Homo sapiens: one gene and its partners. The protein of the gene in region 2 purifies or fractionates together with the protein of the main gene of each other region. This does not show direct contact. Each region holds a gene or a part of one and is shown on either strand. Other genes may lie near its edges.

Region 1 (5,368 bases), on a different chromosome or scaffold from region 2:
CCAAGTACTTTTGGGGATATAAAAAATGAACAGGCCAGGTGTGGTGGCTCACACCTGTAATCCCAGCACTTTGGGAAATTGAGGTAGGAGGATTGCTTGAGGCCAGGACTTCAAAATCAGCCTGGGCAAGATTGTGAGACCCCATCTCTACAAAAAAAATTTTTTTTAATTAAAACAAAACAAAAAACAGGATTTTAGTCCCCGCAAGTTTAATATAAGAGATAAGGCAGTCTTTCCAAACTTGTTGTAGACATGTACACAAATATACTAAGTGCTATGAAGTATAGCTGAGAGCACTCCAACTGAGAATGGCTTCCCAAGGGAGGTAGCAGGGCATACGCTGGGGCCTAAAGGGGTTACTCATGTGCGGATGGGGATGGCATGAACAAAAGCACAGAGGAAAACACCAAGAAGGTCTGATTTGGTTGAAGCAAAAAGAACGGGAAGGGGAATAGAGGGAAATAAAAGAAAAGTAGGCCAGATGTGGTGGCTCACACCTATAATCCCAACTTTTGGGAGACTGAGATGAGAGGATTGCTTGAGCCCAGGAGTTGGAGACAAGCCTGGGCAACATAGTGAGTGAGACCCTGTCTCTATAAGATAATTTTTAAAAGCCCAGAAAAGTAAACTGGGACCAGATCATAGAGATCCTGAATGCCAGGTTAATGAGTTTGGCCTTTATTTTGTAAGTAATGAGTTAGCCACTGAAGGTTTTTTTGTTTTGTTTTGTTTTGTTTTTGTTTTACAGAGCAGTAACATGTTCAAAACATGATTATGACAGTGAGAGGTAGATTGAAGTAGAGAGAATGGAAGTTAATTTTACTCATACACTTTACCACCAAAAGCAATTCTCATTTGAATTGGCCAGAAGTATCATGAAAATCACCCTTTGCTTTTAAAGTATTTATCGGGGAGTAATAATCCCTAAATTTTAAATCTACTCTGGCCTTGCGTGACTAGAATGAGATTTCATGCACTAGAACTAATGGCCACATTTTTGTTAAGTTAAAATAAAACAAAGTGACTGTAAGAGTAAGAGAATCTTACCTTGAACGTGGCGAAATCCCATCTCTACTAAGAATACAAAAATCAGCTGGGCGCGGTGGCACATGCCTGTAATCCCAGCTATTGGGGAGGCTGAGGCATGAGGATTGCTTGAACCCAGGAGGCAGAGGTTGCAGTGAGCTGAGATTGCACCACTGCACTCCAGCCTGGGAGACAGAGTGAGCCTGTCTAAAAAAAAAAAAAAAAAAAAAAAAAAAAAAAAAAAAAAAAGAATCTTACCTTGAACATGTCCACCCAGATCAAAAGTTGTAAACGTCATGCCAGCAATGGTCAGTTCTTCGGAAGCTAAATAAGATTTTAAAATATTTTTACATGAAAATTAGAAACCCATTAATCGTGTAAAAAGTAAAGTAGAGGTTCCTTTTCAAAGACTTTCCTCCCCATCTAATTAAGAATAAATAGTAACTTCTCTTAGAAGCAAAATTGATTCAAAGACCCGTGCTAACATTCTTAAATATCTGCCAGCCGTAATAAAGAAATCAATGTACTTTATGTTCTTAGCTCCCACAATTTAGCCTAAATATTTGCCCTGGCATACTTACACTGGTCCAAGCAAGCATTAGGTCATAGCCTGTTCCTCTTCCTTATTTGAAGGTGTTTTTACCTTTCTCAGCATTCCACAAGTTACTTCCTCCTTCCTTTGTTCTCCTCTGCCTTTGCCTCTTTTAAAAAGTTCTAAGTTGCTAGCCAATCAGGACAAATACAGAATGTGAGGTCCCATTCCAGCCAATGGAAACCGGACACAGCAGTAGGGTGGACGCATCAGATTATAAATGACCCTGTCTCCTTTGTTCGGTGTACTCTTGTGGCAAAACTGCTGGCAAGTGTACCCTTTCTGCAGAAAGTAAAAATGGCCTTGCTGAGGAAATTAAATTTATGTTCAAGTGCTATCCTTTACAGCACCAGGGAACAAGCATTTCTAACAATAGCTTATATTTACTACTTAATGTTTGATTTACTTTTATTGCAAATAAGGTCAAATCAAACATTTACAAACTGGTACAATAATACTTTTTTGTAATTAGATATACACCAATTCATACTGACAATATAACAAATAATTGTAATATTCAGTTCTAGTATTCTACTCACCACAAATCCAACATTTATTTTTCCTTCTCTATTCTTCCTGCTGAAAATGTTAATCTCTTCAGACAATTATTTGCTATGAATTCAAATAACTGCTCCAATCTAATAATTGTTCATATAATTCATCTTAAATGATACAGGTGAAATAATTTTCTCTTATGGCTGACATAAGACAGTCTTTAATTACAAAAACAATTACCATAAAAAATTGTGGCCATTATTTCCATAACTATCTTTCTTTCTCCTCCCTTCCACTTCTGGGACTTCAGTTGCAGGTTTGTTAGACTGCCTGATGTTGTCTCACCAGTCATTGAGGCTCTGTTTATTTTGCTTTCAGTCACTTTTCTCTCTGTGCTTCATTCTGGAGTTTCTGTTGCATTGAGTTAAGTTTAGTGGTCTTTCTTTCTGCAGTACTGGCACTATCTAATTTACTATTAATCCTATCCAGTGAAATTTCCATTTCAGGCTGGGCATGGTAGCTCACACCTGTAAGCCCAGACTTTGGGAGGCCAAGGTGGGAGAATCACTTGAGCCCAGGAGTTCGAGACCAGCCTGGGCAACCCAGGGAGACCCTGTCTCTATTAAAAAAAAGAAAGAAAGAAAAAAAAGAAATTTTCATTTCAAATACTGTATTTTTCATTTCTAGAAGTTTCATTTGATTCTGTGTTATATCTTCCATTTCTTTCCTCATGTTTGTGTTTTCCTTTAAATCCCTGAGCACATTCATAACGATTGTCTTATGTCTTAATCTGCTAATTCCATCATCTTTGTCACACTTGTGTCTGTTTCTACTGACTGAATCACTTTCCTGTTTCTTTGCATGTCTAGTAATTTCATATTGAGTGCTGGATTTTGTTGTAGTCTTTTGAAGAAGGTTGAATTTTGTTCTGACAGTTCACTTGCTTACAGATCAGTTTTTAACATTTGTTAGAAGGCTAAATGGGATTAAACAACAATTCCTGGCCCCATGAGAGCTCTAGTAATTATTTGGCTAACAGCATTCTTACAATTGTTCTTTGACTAGCCTTTTGGAGCTTTACCCATTGCATGCACAGATTGGTATTCAGCTATGTAAATTTCTAGAGTCCTTTCTCTCCAGAGGTCCCTCCTCTCCGGTACTCCCTCCTCTCTGTCCTAGCAAAAAAATTCTAGTCCTGTTGGCCTTTCCAAATTCTGGTCTACATCTCCTCAACTCAGCAAGACTATTGGACTATGTTTGGGTGTCCTCTCTTTGCACCATGGTCTGAAAATTACCTCTTGGCATAAAACCAAAATAGAGTTGTTTCCTTTCTCTCAGGAATCACAGTCCTGTGGTAGCTGTTGCCCAATGTCTGAAAACAGTTGTAGCATCTTTTTTTGTCCGGTTTTCTAGTTGTGTACAGTGGGAGGGTAATTCCAGAACCAGTACTCACTTATGGCCAAAAGCACAAGTGCCCCATAATGACAACATAAGTTTTAGTGTAGCTACTTTAGCCCAGAGTTTTTATCTTCTTAAGAAATTCTGGGGGCCGGGCGCGGTGGCTCACGCCTGTAATCCCAGCACTTTGGGAGGCCGAGATGGGCAGATCACGAGGTCAGGAGATCGAGACCATCCTGGCTAACGAGGTGAAACCCCGTCTCTACTAAAAATACAAAAAATTAGCTGGGTGCAGCGGCAGGTGCCTGAAATCCCAGCTACCAGGGAGGCTGAGGCAGGAGAATCGCTTGAACCCTGGCGGCAGAGGTTGCAATGAGCCGAGATTGCCCCACTGCACTCCAGCCTGGGGAACAGAGCGAGACTCCATCTCAAAAAAAAAAAAAAAAAATTACCCAGGCATGGTGGCAGGTGCCTGTAATCCCAGCTACTCAGGAGGCTGAGGCAGGAGAATCACTTGAACCCAGGAGGCGGAGGTTGCAGTGAGCCGAGATTGCGCCATTGCACTCCAGCCTGGGCAACAGAGAGAGATTCTGTCTGAAAATAAGAAGAAATTCTGGGCCGGGGGCGGTGGCTCACGCCTGTAATCCCAGCACTTTGGGAGGCTGAGGCGGGTGGGTCACGAGGTCAGGAGATCGAGACCATCCTGGCTAACACGGTGAAACCCCGTCTCTACTAAAAAAATACAAAAAATTAGCTGGGCGTGGTGGCAGGCGCCTGTAGTCCCAGCTACTCAGGAGGCTGAGGCAGGAGAATGGCATGAACGCGGGAGGCGGAGCTTGCAGTGAGCCGAGATTGCACCACTGCACTCTAGCCTGGGCGACAGAGCAAGACTCCGTCTCAAAAAATAACAATAATAAATAAAGAAATTCTGTATGTAGGCCAGGTGCAGTGGCTCATGCCTCTAATCCCAGCACTTCGGGAGGCCGAGGCGGGTGGATCACTTGAGACATCAGGAGTTCTGAGACCAGCCTGGCCAATGTGGTGAAACCCCGTCTCTACTAAAAATACAAAAATTAGCCAGGCGTGGTGGCAGATGCCTGTAATCCTAGCTACTAGGGAAGCTGAGACAGGAGAATGTGGCAGGCGGAGGTTGCAGTGAGCCGAGACTGGCCACTGCACTCCAGCCTGGGCAACAGAGCGAGACTCCATCTCGGAAAAAAAAAAAAAAAAAAAAGGGCAGGGCACACGGTGGCTCATGCCTGTAATCCCAGCACTTTGGAAGGCCGAGGGGGGCGGATCACCTGAGGTGAGGAGTTCGAGACCATCCTGGCAAACATGGTGAAATCCCGTCTCTACTAAAAATACAAAAATTAGCCGGGAGTGGTGGTAGGCTCCTGTAATCCCAGCTACTCGAGAGGCTGAGGCAAGAGAATCGCTTGAACCCGGGAGGTGGAGGTTGCAGTGAGCTGAGATCATACCATTGCACTCCAGCCTGGGGGACAAGAGCGAGACTTTGTCTCAAAAAAAAAAAAAAAAGAAAGAAAGAAATTCTATGTGTAGATTGCCAAATGAATAAAATATTTAATACAATCTATATTCAAAGTCACTGTTCATAAGGAAAAGATAATGCTTAGTTAGCAAACCACCTCTATGGTAATAATCCCCAATATACTTTCTGCTTTATAAAAGAAGTCTGAATTAGGCTATTTAAGATACAGAACACTGTTAACATCCCAGAAAGTCTCCTCTAGCCCCTTCCCAGTCAATCCCCATTTTCATCTCCGGAAGCAACCACTGATCTGAATTCTATCACCACAGGTTAGTTTTGTCTGTTCTAGAATTTCATATAAATGGTAT
Region 2 (3,791 bases):
TGATTAGGTATGGCCAAGGCTAATGTTAAAATTAGATTTTATTCTTTGAGTAAATAATGACTGACAAAAGGGGAATGTTGCCTAGGAATGTAATGTATGGCAGAAAAATAGGTTTGGTCTAAAGCTTTGCCAGCAGTGTTCGAAGAAAGTAGGTAATTTGTTCAAGGATAAGAGACTTGATTCTTTGAGGTACAGCCTGCCTTAAAAAACAGGTACATAAGTCGTAGAGTATAAAACAGTATGTGGTGTGGTGGCATAAAAAAAAACAGACAAGGTGTCAGGAGATTAGGATTACTGGTTTAGCTACAGCCTCTTCCTTAATCTATGGTATCTCAGTCTCAGTGTACTCACTTACATGTAATATCTAATGGTATTTGTACAGAACTAAAATACATAAATTCATAAAAGTTATTAATGTGTAAAGCACTGATAAAGTTTTTTTTTGTTGTTGTTGTTTTTTTTTTTGAGATGGAGTTCCACTCTTTTTGCCCAGGCTGGAATGGTGTGATCTCCCGTCACTACAACCTCCACCTCCCAGGTTCGAGCGATTCTCCAGCCTCAGCCTCCCGAGTAGCTGAGATTACAGGCGCCCGCCACTATGCCTGGCTAATTTTTGTATTTTTAGTAGAGATGGGGTTTCACCATGTTGGCCAGGCTGCTCTCAAACTCCAGACCTCAGGTGATCTGCCCGCCTCGGCCTCCCGAAGTGCTGGGATTACAGGCTTGAGCCACCACGCCTGGCCAAGATTTTTCAAATGCTTCTCACAAGCACTTTTTAATTTACAAAGCATTACTTTAGACTTTGTATACATTCATGTGAGTAAGGGGACAAGAATTTAAGGCCCAGTAGTATTGCTTGTTCAGAAAGGTACTGCTCAGTATTGGACCAGCTTGCTGTGTAGCTGGACACCTGAAAGACATTTTCTACTTCTACAGGCAGAGACTGAGCAGCATCTTGATGCTCCCTAGTGCATTAACATAAGCAGAATTTACACCCTTTTCAGCCTTGGCCGAGTGCCTCTGCTTAGCCAACATTCCTACTAAGCTCCTTTGTCTCGATTGTGTCTTGCTTTGGTTGCTAAAAAAAAAATCTTAACTAAAATAACAGATGTTTTGGGGTAAATATTTAAGTATAGCTTTTGGGGACAGATCTAATAATTTATGTTGCCAACTTGTGCTTGTATGTTGCTAACTTGTGCTTGGATGTTGATCTGTTGAAAGTCATGCTGTTTTTTTTGTATTTTGTTTTCTTTCCATAGTTGTGGTGACAGTACATGGAGAGGTATGTGCAGAAAATATTTGTGTGGTTTTTGCAGATTGCTGGGCTCTCTTTCAGCCAGTGTGGTGGATTCTGTGTTGAAAACTGTTCCAGTCAGTATTGCTTCATTGTTGGCCCTTGTATATGTGTGTGTGGTGAGCTGCCGCCATTCCAGGCCTCTCCTCTACCAAAGTGTTGTCTTTAATATGCTGTATGTGGACAGGTAGAAGGGCTATACAATGAAAAGGATGCTTGAAGTACATGGTGCTTCCATGCTGAGGTCAATGATTATCTCTGGGATGAAGGCAAATGTGCAAATGTGGGCACAGTCTCTGCACATTGTACTGCCTTTAATAATTTGCCAGCCGTTTAATATGGAGAGCCTATCACAGTAATATTCACCTTTGTTTATTCTTTAGATTGACCCTGCTACGGGAATGGTTATGAATCTGGCTGATCTCAAAAAATATATGGAGGTAATGGCATGTTGGGTGCTTATTATGTGCTATTCCCTAACTGTAATATTTGGTGGCCCCCTATCTACCTCCCCAACCAGTTATCTCCTAAGGTTCCATGACTTTGTGAATAGAACTGGATGTGGGTGTTGGGGAATAGTTGGAAGAACTGCTCGCATGGCCTCTAAAGGTGTTTTGGTGACTTAACGGAAATTAGTCACAGTTGTGTTACAGCGATGGGAGGAAATATAACATGCTCACCTTGTATTCCTTGTTGGAATATCCTGATTTCCTTCAGTTAACAAATTCTCCATTTCTTTTAAGACATAGCTTTCTCCTTGAGACTTACTGTCTTTCTTTTTTTTTTTTTTTTTAAATAGGCACAGAACCAATGCAAACTTTTCTTTTTGGTAGAGGTAGGGGTCTCACTATGTTGTTCAGGCTGGTCTCAGACACCTCCTGCCTTGACCTCCCAAAGTGCTGGAATTACAGGCATGAGCTACTGCTCCTGGCCTTCTCCTTGGAGCTTTCTCTTCCCTCTCTGAATATTCCTTGTACCTTTGATCATAGATTTAGACACCACACTGTGTTGTTCATTCTAGCTTTATTATAAACTCACCAGAGCAGTACCTCATAGAGATAACACACAAGGTGTTCAATGAAGAACTTAACTGATTGTGTCATTATAGAATTCTTGCACTGTAAGAGACTTTGGAGATTATTCAGACCAACTTCTTCAACCCATAGATTAAGATTGAGAGATGCTGAACAGTTAACTGACTTGCCCCAGGTCATATGGCTAGTCATTTGCAAAGCTGGGAGTAGATTTCTTTCCTTCCAGCTGTTTTATTATGCTGTCATTTCACTTGCAGCTTAGGTTTGTTCTGAGATTTGACATTTGCTTGATTAAAATGATGTTATTAGTAATGATTACTTCTTTCACATTACTTATTCATATATTCAACAAATTTCTCTACTTCGCATCAGTTTTTGAGCTAAGTGTACAAAGATGAATGAGATGTAGCCCACAGAGTGTATACATTACTTTTTCTAGGAGGTGAAGAATATTATTAAATAACTGTTGATTTAATAAATGAGTAGAAGAATGAGTGAATGAAGAAACAGCACTATGCTCAAAATACTTTAGGAAAGTTATACAGATAGGGCCAGCATGCATTTATGGGGCAGGGGTTGGGGGGCAGGCGGAGAGAGAGAGAGAGGGAGACAGAGACAGGAGAAGAGGAGGGGGAGGGGAGGACAGGGGAGGAGAGGGGAGGGGAAAGAAAGAAAAAGAAAAAGAGAAAAGAAAAGAAAAGAAAGAAAAGAGACAAGACAGCAACATAAAAGGCCTCAACATATGACTAAATACTGGAGGAGGGCTTCTCTATGCTGTTTTCTGCTTTTGTATGCCTGAAGGACACCACACACTTTCATCAGTAAAAGTGGCTTATCATGGCATGTAGAGTAAAGTTAGAGCTCTACCGTGGGGGGAGGATTGCTTGAGTCCAGGAGTTCAAGGCTGCAGTGAGCTATGATTATGCCACTTGCACTCCAGCCTGGATGACAGAGACCCTGTCTCTAAAAACAAAACAAAAGAAAACAAAAAGCCCTGCATAAGAGGCTTTAATGGAGAAATTGGGACTGGAACTGGGATTGAAGATGAAGCAAGGATGCCCGTTTTCTTGTTATTCATGTGGAACATCCCTTCATTGGATATATTTCAATAACTGTTTGATCTAGGACTTACTCTTTTTGTATGATTCTAGTTTTTCTCAAGAAATGATTGCTGTTACTGTTATTAATGTACCCTTCTTCAAACTACGTCCTATGGAAAATTACATTTTTTTTTCACAGATGCTTAGATTTTTTGCAATAGCTAAAAGCAAAAACCTAGAAAGAATGAGGCAATTTAATCCTTGCTGATGATGAGGAAAAACATTATGTTAATATACACGAGCATTAGGGAGTAATAGTCTTTACATATATATATTTTTCCTTCTATGAGCCCAAGATCATTCTTAAATTATTCCTCATAGCAAAAATTTAGAACTACTTACATAATTTCAGTCTAGGTCTGC
Region 3 (5,368 bases), on a different chromosome or scaffold from region 2:
ACTCTTACTCATGTTTAAGTGGGGAGAGTAATGGAAACTCCCAGGAGAGATCCTTCAATCTAGTTTTGTGGCTAAAAGCAGTAAGGAGAAGTTGAGGAATCTACTTGTAAATGCAGGATGCCTAAGGGCTGACAATTAAGAAGAAAACTGAAAAACTAAAAAGCAGTGTAAAACCTCAGAAGCAAAGATGTCTTGGATCATACTCATAGGAGCAAAAAATAACCTAAATCAAAACAGTTAAGTATGCCAAGGGCCTAACTGAAAATCCAGTCCCTAATTGGCCTGAGTTGTTGAGTTCACATTATATTCAGATGAGTATTATTAAAAACATGGAGAAATAATAAAATATTTAACAAAAACTGGTTAAATGTGTTAAGTGATAGTGTATTTCCCATTAGAGTCGGCTATATATAAAGTTTGTGACACTTCTGTCCTCCAATAGACTTATGTTAAAGACAACATGTGTATTGAAAGTAGCAATTTTATTTGAGTTAAAATTATTTACAAAAACCCAAAGACATACTTCATGAAACTGGTACAAACTATTTTTTCCTGCCGTTGGCTTTTGCTCCAAAGATCACAGCTGAGAAATACTGTATAAAATAAAAATAGGATTGGATTCAGAAAAGTACTCTACTGTTCTAATTTCCAATTGGTAGTATTTACAGAAATATTTACAATGGAAAAAAGGTTACTTTAAAACTTTTAGTTAAGTCAGCCTCAAGTACCCTAAAATGCAGAGTTCTCTGAGGGTTAAAAACACACAAATGCACTGCAGTTGGTGAAGTGATTATCTCCCCCACCACCTCCCCCCACCAAAATCTGCATCTCTATCAGTGCTCGACAATTAGTTATTATTTAAAAAACAAAACAAAACAAAAAACTGTTAAACACTGAGGTAAATCAATTTTCAAATGATTACCAGTGTAACAGAAAAATGCAGTTCGCCCTGATTGTTCTCATCCAAATGTTTTATAATATTCCTTACCATCTGCCACAAGTCAGGTTCACCAAAAATCTGTCCCTTTCCCTAAATCCAATGATTAATAAATATCAATGTATTTTGCATTTTAAAATAAAATATAACTAATTTAATTTTACGGGTATCATTTACCAATATGTTTTTAAAAGTATTTTGCTAAGCTAGCTTTAATACTCAGGGCAAATACAATCTCAATGGTTCCCACGTTACACTGGCGTACTATGTTCTTAAAAGGTGATGGGTAGGGGTTGGGGTGGGTAGAAGGAAGAAAACAATTTGCCTGGAATCAGTTACTTCCTTACAGATTTCCCAACAATCTGCATTATCAAAAATAGGAAGACAATAGAAGGCAGCCACTGCATTTAAAAACATTACAGCTGGCACTGATACAAGAGCCCCGATTTGTCACTTTATACAAGGAAATAACAAAGTCTAAATGGGTAAAAATTAGACTTTTAGCTATTTTCCCCAATACACACCAAACTAATATTTTTATGGCTTCAAGTTTTACAAATCCAATGAAGAAACATGATGTAACTACCTGAAAGGTATTTAAAAGTATTAATGAAAAAGATCTCTAGAAAGCCTGTATTCAGGCCCAATCAATAAAAAAGGAAAAAAAAAAGTATAACCAGTGGTGTGAATAATACAAGAAAAATTTGCAATGTTATGATATTAAATCTATAAAATGTTTTGTGTTCCATAACTGTTTTTCAAATAACTGCTCTACGAACAAAGAATCTGAATGAAAAAAGGGTCTTCTCTAAACCAGCAATTTAAGGCTTTGCGCTTATGCAATTGATCCTGTCACTCTATAGAAGAATATACATGTTATCTGGAAACAGGAATTCCACATTGGTGTTTTAGCTTCCTTATATTTATTGTACTGAACATTAGAAAATATATCTAGAGAGTCTTTCCTCAAAATCTAATAATGTTTTAAGAGCCTCCCTAGCATTAAGTGTAAACTACCCTGGGTTTGACTATTTTGCCTCCTCCTTTTAACAGGGCACATCATCTTATATAATATTCTCTCAAACTGTTGTTTTTCTTGTGCCTATAGCTATGACACATTATGGTATGATATTGAATATGGTTGTGGTCTCAAAAGTAAAAAATAGTTCAATAACCCAAACCTAATCAAGAATAAAAAAATATACTATTAATCCCGTGTATCTTTGGATTCCATCTAATTTTAAATATAGACAGTAGTTCAGGGAACAACAACCAAAAAATTCACAAAATTATTAAAAGCTTTATTTACGATTGGAATCATTCAACAAAAAAGCAAAAGCAAATGAGCCTGAAAAAGGAACTAAGCTGTTGTCTAGAATGTCCTCAGAACATTCGCTACCTCAGTAGCTAAGCTGCCTTTGCACCTGGCTGGCATGACAACAGTGGCTCAACATACACAGCAGTTGCACTAACAGCAGCACAAATTTTCCCCTTCAAACTTGCCCAGAATAAAGCAAGAAAACAAGGGGAGGGTATAAACTCTGCCAAAGTAAATGTATTTAAATACTGCATGGAATTGTTAACAGCCTGAACCTTTTCCCCTCATTTTTGATAGTTGCAGATTGATGTAGTAACTGTCATTTAGCAAATGCCGAATGCATGACGAAGAAATCAGGTGGCCTTAAAAATCCAAACACGAATGATACTGATGAATGTTCTTGGTATATCTTCAAGGACTTCTTTCATGACTTGACTTTTCTTTGTCTAAGGATAGCTCCAGCATTACCGAGCACCTGAAGCAAAGGTAAAGCAGCTAGCAATGTTCCAAATATTCAATCACTCTAGAGATAGATTTCTGGCCAGTTGTTCCAACAGCACACTGAAAGCAGGGTGAAGGGGAAAGGAAGTAACAGTTAATATTTAACAGATTTTAAGAAGTATAAATAAAAGTTTACCTCTAGATTTACTAAACTGAACACTACAAATCAAAGTACACCGAGATTAAATTGTGGGTTTGATAAAGTTATTTGCCATAACATGCAATGATTACCTTGAAGAAATAGAACACGATTATTAAAATTAAAAGAAAATCCCTTTTTGCTCCCACTTACTATGGCCATAGTATTTTTATGTCTACTGTCAATGTATTATAAATTTAAAATCATATAAGCTGTAATAAAAGCTACTTACAGTGAGATTCATAAAACTCAAAAATTTTTTGAGCATCTCTGTCATTATTGAAAAGTCTCCTTCTGGCAGATATTCCCGCACAGTGGTTACATTGATCTGAGGAAACAGAGCAAGAAATATTGGTCAGCTGGCAGAAAACATGAGATTGCACCTCGTACAATGTTGTTGGTTTTGACACACATCTTGGTGCAAATTTTTAAGATCCTTGGAACACGTGGTTATTTATTCTCTTTCCACACTCACTCTGCATGTGATTTCCTACCTCACCCTCAGAAAGAAAGGAGAAAGGTAAAGTTGGCAAAAGCTACAAAGAAATATTTGTGTACACATTTACTTTTTTTTTTTTTTTTTTAAATGAAACAGTCACTCTGTTACCCAGGCTGGAGTGCAGTGGTGTAATCTCAGCTCACTGCAACCTCTACCTCCTGGGTTCAAGTGATTCCCATGCCTCAGCCTCCCGGGTAGCCGGGATTAAAGGCACGTGCCACCATGCCTGGCTAATTTTTGTATTTTTAGCAGAGACGTGGTTTCATCATGTTGGCCAGGCTGGTCTCGAGCTCCTGGGCTCAAGTAATCCACGCACCTTGGCCTCCCAAAGTGCTGGAATTACAGGTGTGAGGCAGCATGCCGACCTACTTTCATAAATGCAAAGAAAAAGGCCTGAAATAACAAACTGCACTGTTTAATGTATGTGTGTGTTTCACTGGGGGCCCTGGGGGAATAGGAGAAGAGGGTGAGGACTTTAGACCTGAGAATGTACTCACAAAGCTGCTCATGAAATAAAAAGATCAAAGAAAAATTCACATCCTTCACAGATGAATTCAACTAATTATATAGGACAGGAATTAACTAGAAGCATCTTTCCAAAGGCAATCTAACCTCATCTATGATAGATTCTCAGACAATATCAGGAGAGAAAACCCTTCATTATTAGCAAGAAGCAGCCAAACTATATATAAACCAATCTGTTACATGGAAAACATTACACAACCTGCTTAAAAAACTATTTCATTAAAGAATGCTTTAAATGTTTTACGGAGAATAAAAAGAAAAAATCTTTTAGGAAGGTTCACCTGTAGTAAGGGGCAAAAGAAAGTATACTGTCCCAAGTTTGGGGACACAAGGTAAAGGGTTAAACAAAACCAACCAAAAAACAAAAAGAAAACACACAAAAGCTCCCAATTCGACTTTTGTTAGCGGGGGCAAAAAAGGAGAGATGACATATTTCTCTTCAGAAATTTGCCACTACCCACCCCCTTTTTCCTATTCCCATGCCAGGGTACTCGCAAAATTAGAAAGCAGCAAAAAAATGAGATGAATACAGCTTCAGAAAAGATCTAATCAAAACACTGCTAAAGTACTCATGTGCTGAAGATATCAGTTACACACATTCAAACTGATCCTCCCACCAAAAGCTATCACAGTGGTGGGCAAAATAGTGGCTAAGGTGTCTCTGGAGAACTGCTCAGTAGAAAAGTACGCCTCTGTAATAGAGAATATATGATTAGCTCCTATATTTTGGATGAAAGCCCCTCATTAATCCAAATCAAACCCTTCTCTATCAACACACTACAGAACATGACATACAGCGTTTCTGAGGCAATGGGAGGGACAGTGACAGCATTTTTTAACAGAATATAGCAGGTACAAAAAGAAAAGGCATGATACAGCATGGCCTATTTGAAAAATTTTAAAAGTGTCCAGTAGGTTTGGAAATTGGAGAAGCAGTCTTAAGTCCAGGGTCTTGCAACACTAAACAGTCATGAGTCCCCTTCCTGGCTGTGAGCCAAGGAAGACTGGGCAAGGAGCTACGTGATCAGTAAGTGCTCTGAAGTAAGTTAGCTCCAGTGGCAATGTGCAATGTCCCAGGAATGGAGGGGCAACAAAGCAGGAAGAGCAGTGAGGAGACTGACCACTGCAATGCACCAGCTGCAAAGTGAGAAGACATGGAGGGCAAGTGAAAATGGGATCAGACCACAAAGCAGCATTTACTGCAACAACCACATGCTTTCTTGTCTATCTCTTTTCACTTACACATTAGGTAAACCAAACTTCCTTTACATTTTGTGGTATCAGCTAGCTTTTTGGTGTTAATCATAATAATCTCCAAGGCAACAAATAAATCTGGGGCTCTATGAATTCACAACATTTCCCACAATTTAAGAACATTCTCTTTTTAGAGACAAGATAGATACAGGCAAACACAAATAGGAATTAGCATGGGAAAGATGGCCCAAGATA
Region 4 (5,368 bases), on a different chromosome or scaffold from region 2:
AAATGTTAGACAAGATAGGCTTAAAACTATAAAATAATGAAAAGATAACATTAATCATAAAAAGAGGGACTACGAAAACAGGATATATGAGTCAGTTGAGACTACAAAATGTAAGGTTCTTACCTTAAAATACTGATTTTATTTAATTATTTGTTTTATATAGATGCCCTAAATCAAGATAATATAAAAACTGTGGCCAGGCACGGTAATTGTGGGATCACGCCTGTAATCCCAGCATTTTAGGAGGCCGAGGTGGGCGGATCATGAGGTCAGGAGTTCAAGACCAGCCTGACCAACATGGTGAAACCCCGTATCTACTAAAGTACAAAAATTAGCCAGGTGTGGTGGCGCACGCCTGTAATCCCAGCTACTTAGAAGGCTGAGGTAAGATAATCGCTTGAATCCAGGAGGCAGAGGTTGCAGTGAGCCGAGATCGCGTCACTGCACTCCAGCCTGGGTGACAGAGTAAGACTCTGTCTCAATAGAAAAAAAAAAAAATGCTCTTCTGTTTTCAAAATTACCAATAAGGGAATCTATCTAAAGATAGGTTCATAACTGGGCATGGTGGTGCCCACCTCTCCTGGTTACTCGGGAGGCTGAGGCAGGAGAATCACTTGAACCCAGGAGGCAGAGGCTACAGGGAGCCAACATCGCCCACTGATCACGCCACTGCACACCAGCCTGAGCAATAGAACAAGATTCTGTCTGGCTGGGGGATGGGGGGTGGGCAGGTGGGATGGGGGAAGAAAAGATACACAATGAAAAAAGTAAGTAAAAAAAAAATAAAGATAGGTTCAACTTCTAAAAAATTAAGCAGCAGCTTACAGTAGTTGATATAATATGGGCTTTGGAGTCATAAAGATTTTGATTCATTCAGCAAATATTTAATTAGACATCCTTTGTCTTAAGCACTGTGATTGGCCCTAATTATATAATCATGAAAAATATATTACCCTCCCCCAACAATAAAATTCTATTTTTTTAGAGGTAGAAAAACAAACAGTGATTTACCAGAGTGTTATAGATGCTGTCTTGCTGTCACCTACCAGCTTCCTCAAGAGCATATTACTTAACTTCCCTGGACCTCTCTCCTTTTCCTTATTTATAAAATGGCAGTAATATACTTACCTCTTGGGACTATGGTAAGGATTAAATGAAATGACACTTACAGAGCACCAGACATGTATTAGTGGTTCAATTAACTGTAGCTACCATTGTTAGCCTTTCAAAAAGTTAATCTTTTTAAAAATGAGGTAGGAATGGTTGCCAGCTATTGTCCTTTGACCTATGAAGTGAGACAAGGTCTAACTTCAAATTCCTCAGAGTAACCTGAATGAGAGAGCCACTTCAGGCAACATTATGTGAAGTTCTAACCTGAAAGAAGTCAAATAAGGGCAAAGTGCCTCATAAGAAGGCAAAAATAAAAGGAACATATCCAACCAACAACAAAGTCTGCAGAAATCCTATACTTTTTATCCCAAAGATTTCCTGTTTATATTCAATTGAATTTTTCTATTATAGCCCATAACTTATTTTATCCAGTGCTAAACACCAAATTTTTCTTCACATAATTTGAATACATTTTAAATAAAAACAATTTGCACTGATTTCAGAAAGCCAAAAAAAGTATATTATCACATTTACCTGATAAAACAGAACTGTAAATTTGGACATACAATCTTCACAACAAAACTCTTCTAACTTGCCCTCCAATCGATTTTCTACCAAATTTGGGGATGTCTGTGAACAGTAGCTGCACATCTTACAGTAGTTTCCCCATCGTTCTCCAAAGTCACGGGCAGAGAGGAATTTGCAAACTGAGGATCAGAGGGATGAAAGGAAGAAAAATCAAATTTACATTAACTGAGGAGGTATAATAAGTTTCTGTGGTCTTAGATATGAAACTTTAAGCTAATTTCTAATACACAATTATTTGCCTCTAGATTACAGGACAGTCTCTATATTCACAAACCAAACTCATACCACCTTTTATTTTATTTTATTTTTTGAGACAGAGTCTCACTCGTTTTGCCCAGGCTGGAGTGCAGTGGCACAATCTCAGCTCACTGCAACCTCTGCCTCCCAGGTTCAAACGATTCTCCTGCCTCAGCCTCCTGAGTAGAGCAGCTGGGATTACAGGTACCTGCCACCACACCCAGCTAATTTTTGTATTTTTAGTAGAGATGGCATTTCGCCATGTTGGCCAGGCTGGTCTCAAACTCCTGACCTCAGGTGATCTGGCTCGCCTTGGCCTCCCAAAGTGCTGGGAATACAGGCGTGAGCCACTGCGCCCTGCCACCACCTTTTAAATATACTCTAAATATTAGGCCATTTATATTCAGAAACATTAGAGGTATAAAAGTTTTTTAAGCCAAGAAGCAGCAACTGTTTTAAGTTCCTCTTCGCAAATGAGTGCAAGAACAAAAAGATCTCTGATGTCATAGCTAAACTTATGAAGAGATTTTCTTTATTAATACCACTGATGTAATCATTTTTACAGTTTTTTATTGCAATTACTGCAACATTTAAAAAGACTGACTTTCAGCCAGGCACAGTCGCTCACGCCTATAATCCCAGCACTTTGGGAGGCCGAGGCAGGAGTACCACCTGAGCTCAGGAGTTCAAGACCAGCCTGGGAAACATGGTGAAACCCCCCGTCTCTACCAAAAATAAAAAAAATTAGCCAGGCATGGTGGCACGCTCCTGTAGCTTCAGCTACTTGGGAGGCTGAAGTGGGAGGATCCCTTAAACCGGGGAGGCAGAGACTGCAATAAGCCAAGATCATGCCACCACACTCCAGCCTGAGTGACAGGGCAAGACCTTGTCTCAAAAAAATAAACAAACAAAAATAATAAATAAAAAGATTGACTTTAAAGTGAATTAACTATAAACACAATTCAAAAAAACCTTTTTTTTTTTGGAGACAAGAGTTTCGCTCGTCGCCCAGGCTGCAGTGCAATGGCATGATCTCAGCTCACTGCAACCTCTGCCTCTGAGGTTCATGCAATTCTCCTGCCTCAGGCTCCCAAGTAGCTGGGATTACAGGCGTGCGGCACCATGCCCGGCTAATTTTGTATAGAGACGGTGTTTTTTAACAGAGATGGGGTTTCACCATGTTGGTCAGGCTGGTCTTGAACTCCCAACCTCAAGTGATCCACCCACCTCAGCCTCCCAAAATGCTGGGATTACAGGCGTGAGCCTCCATGCCCGGCCTCCAAAATACTTCTAATTACACCTTGTAAGACAAAAAGAATGTGAAAACTAATCATGGCTTAATTGCCCAAGTCGTCATGAATTATAACAACCCATGCTCTGTGAATAAAACAACTTTGTCTTTACCTTCACTACAGAATGGCTTATCAACCCCTGAGAATCGCACAGTCTCCTTTATAATTTTCTGCAGTTTACAGTAGTCACACATTGCCACAACTTTATTTTTCTTCTTGTATTCATCAGAGCAATTCTTGCCACAAAACAGAAACATTTTACCCTGCAGAGAAACAACAGTCCATTAAGAGCCAACTAAACAGTTGCTTTATCTTTAAGAACTCCTTTTCATGTCAAAGCAAATTGAGTGATCAAAATTGAAAACACAAAAGTGTTTCTACTGGATGAGTTTATATACAATCCCTTTCATGATCTCTCTTTACCTTGTAAAAAAGAAGTTCTGGTTTTGTGGCAAATAGATGGTTACAGTGCTGACACTTGAGTTTAACAACTGTATGGGTTAAAGCAACTTGCTGGGATTGTTCAGCAAGAGGTTGGAGGCTGGCTGCAGCAGAGCCACGGATGGAGCTGGGGGAAACGGCAGAGGTGTTACCTCCTCCTATTGACACTGCTGACCTGGAGGAGGGCGGGCTTACAACCACTTGGCCCTGAGACAGGGGCACCGCCGAAGAGTTTGTTCCTTTTGGCTTGCTAAATACATTCTGAATGAAAACAAATAAGGTAAAGATTTTATCAACTGAGAAATAAGATAACTTTGTACTTTTCATTTCCTCATTTTAATAAATCAAGTCTCCCACAAACATTTTTTAAAATTTTCTATCTCACAGAAAGAGTTTAAATGGTATATTTCCAGAATAAAAGGACTGAGAAATACAACATTAAAAGGTCAAGGACTGGAATTCAGGCTTTCCTGACAAAGACCTCCAGTATATGCCTCTAATAAATTAGAGCAGGCCTCTCCTTCCCCCTAAAACTTCCCCCTACCTGCACTCCCATCATCAACCAGCTTCTGATGGCTACTACGACACAATAGCTACCAGCAGTCTCTTTCTCCCTAATGCCAGGGATACTACATCAGGCATGTTCCTACCCTGGAGATTACTAAACTCTACTCTTTGTGTATGTATTGCAGAGAGGGAGGAGAAAATGGGACAAGTGGATGCTTACAATTCCATGCCAGGAGTCACTGTGTTTCTGACACAGGATGAGAGGAAGGGGTATGTGAATCCCATCAGGCTACTGTTCTTCACCATACCACCTACCCAAACCACAATCCTAGCTTCCATCTTTTTGAAGGGGAGAGACCCAAGGGAGAAAGTGGGAGGGAATGACAGTTTAGGCTAGGATCCTAAATAAAGAAGAAACTGCTGAGACCCAATATCTGGGTTCAGATATTTTGTAGAAATGACCTGGTTGGGCCCCTGGATGAAACAAATTTTTTTCTTTTTAATTCAAATTTAAACTTTCATAAGAACAGGCCTTCAGCAGTTAACACTGTGCCACAGATCGATGCCTAACAGAACCACATGCATAATGTGCTACCTTAGATCATACCTGGAAAGCAACCACACAACTGGAGCTGCAGAAGCTGTATATAGTTCCATTTGACATGGCTAGGTGATACTGAGGGATTGCTGAGGTTTTACAACTATGACATGAAACCTGGACACCTTGGTGACAAAAAATTAAAAACAATGATTAAGTTATACCAATGAACAAACAATACAAAAATGTATTGGGAGAATGAAAAAATTAAATAATCAATAATATACCAAAAAAATCAAGGAACTTTATAAAAATCTGAAATCTAACCACAACTAACCTCTATTAAGTCCCACTTACACAAAAACTAACTTGGAAATTTTAAGTGTTTTTTCTTTCCTCTCACATATGAAATTATAAAATACTGTATATATTGCAACCAAGAAAATCGGGGAAAAACTATTTTCACATAAAAGTCAGTTATTTAAAAGTCAGTCTTGGGTTTTTATTTAACTAAATAGATAAATTTAGCTTGTAACAAAATCAGAGAAAAGCAGTTACGTTTTTCTTCAATAGTTATTAAATCTATAAATTTATCAAATTTAAACATTACCTGAAGAAGTAACAGTCTTAACTCTGTAAGCAGATAAGCAATTAA

Evidence for each region.
Region 1: the proteins of PTS (region 2) and SAR1B purify together in Homo sapiens (affinity purification with mass spectrometry; one large-scale study listed by BioGRID and IntAct). This does not show direct contact.
Region 3: the proteins of PTS (region 2) and WAPL purify together in Homo sapiens (affinity purification with mass spectrometry; one large-scale study listed by BioGRID and IntAct). This does not show direct contact.
Region 4: the proteins of PTS (region 2) and ZMYM6 purify together in Homo sapiens (affinity purification with mass spectrometry; one large-scale study listed by BioGRID and IntAct). This does not show direct contact.

What each region holds. Positions count from the first base shown.
Region 1 is NC_000005.10:134,611,407-134,616,774, forward strand, and holds part of SAR1B (small COPII coat GTPase SAR1B), read right to left. Parts: intron 1,627-5,368; exon of another isoform or gene 1,608-1,626; intron 1,351-1,607; coding exon 1,285-1,350; intron 1-1,284. UniProt on the Homo sapiens protein: Small GTPase that cycles between an active GTP-bound and an inactive GDP-bound state and mainly functions in vesicle-mediated endoplasmic reticulum (ER) to Golgi transport.
Region 2 is NC_000011.10:112,228,949-112,232,739, forward strand, and holds part of PTS (6-pyruvoyl tetrahydrobiopterin synthase), read left to right. Parts: intron 1-1,259; coding exon 1,260-1,282; intron 1,283-1,677; coding exon 1,678-1,734; intron 1,735-3,791. UniProt on the Homo sapiens protein: Involved in the biosynthesis of tetrahydrobiopterin, an essential cofactor of aromatic amino acid hydroxylases. Catalyzes the transformation of 7,8-dihydroneopterin triphosphate into 6-pyruvoyl tetrahydropterin.
Region 3 is NC_000010.11:86,434,793-86,440,160, forward strand, and holds the end of WAPL (wings apart-like protein homolog), read right to left. Parts: intron 3,224-5,368; coding exon 3,128-3,223; intron 2,817-3,127; coding exon 2,751-2,816; 3' UTR 464-2,750; downstream 1-463. UniProt on the Homo sapiens protein: Regulator of sister chromatid cohesion in mitosis which negatively regulates cohesin association with chromatin. Involved in both sister chromatid cohesion during interphase and sister-chromatid resolution during early stages of mitosis.
Region 4 is NC_000001.11:35,007,108-35,012,475, forward strand, and holds part of ZMYM6 (zinc finger MYM-type protein 6), read right to left. Parts: coding exon 5,324-5,368; intron 4,899-5,323; coding exon 4,783-4,898; intron 3,930-4,782; coding exon 3,651-3,929; intron 3,491-3,650; coding exon 3,340-3,490; intron 1,818-3,339; coding exon 1,645-1,817; intron 1-1,644. UniProt on the Homo sapiens protein: Plays a role in the regulation of cell morphology and cytoskeletal organization.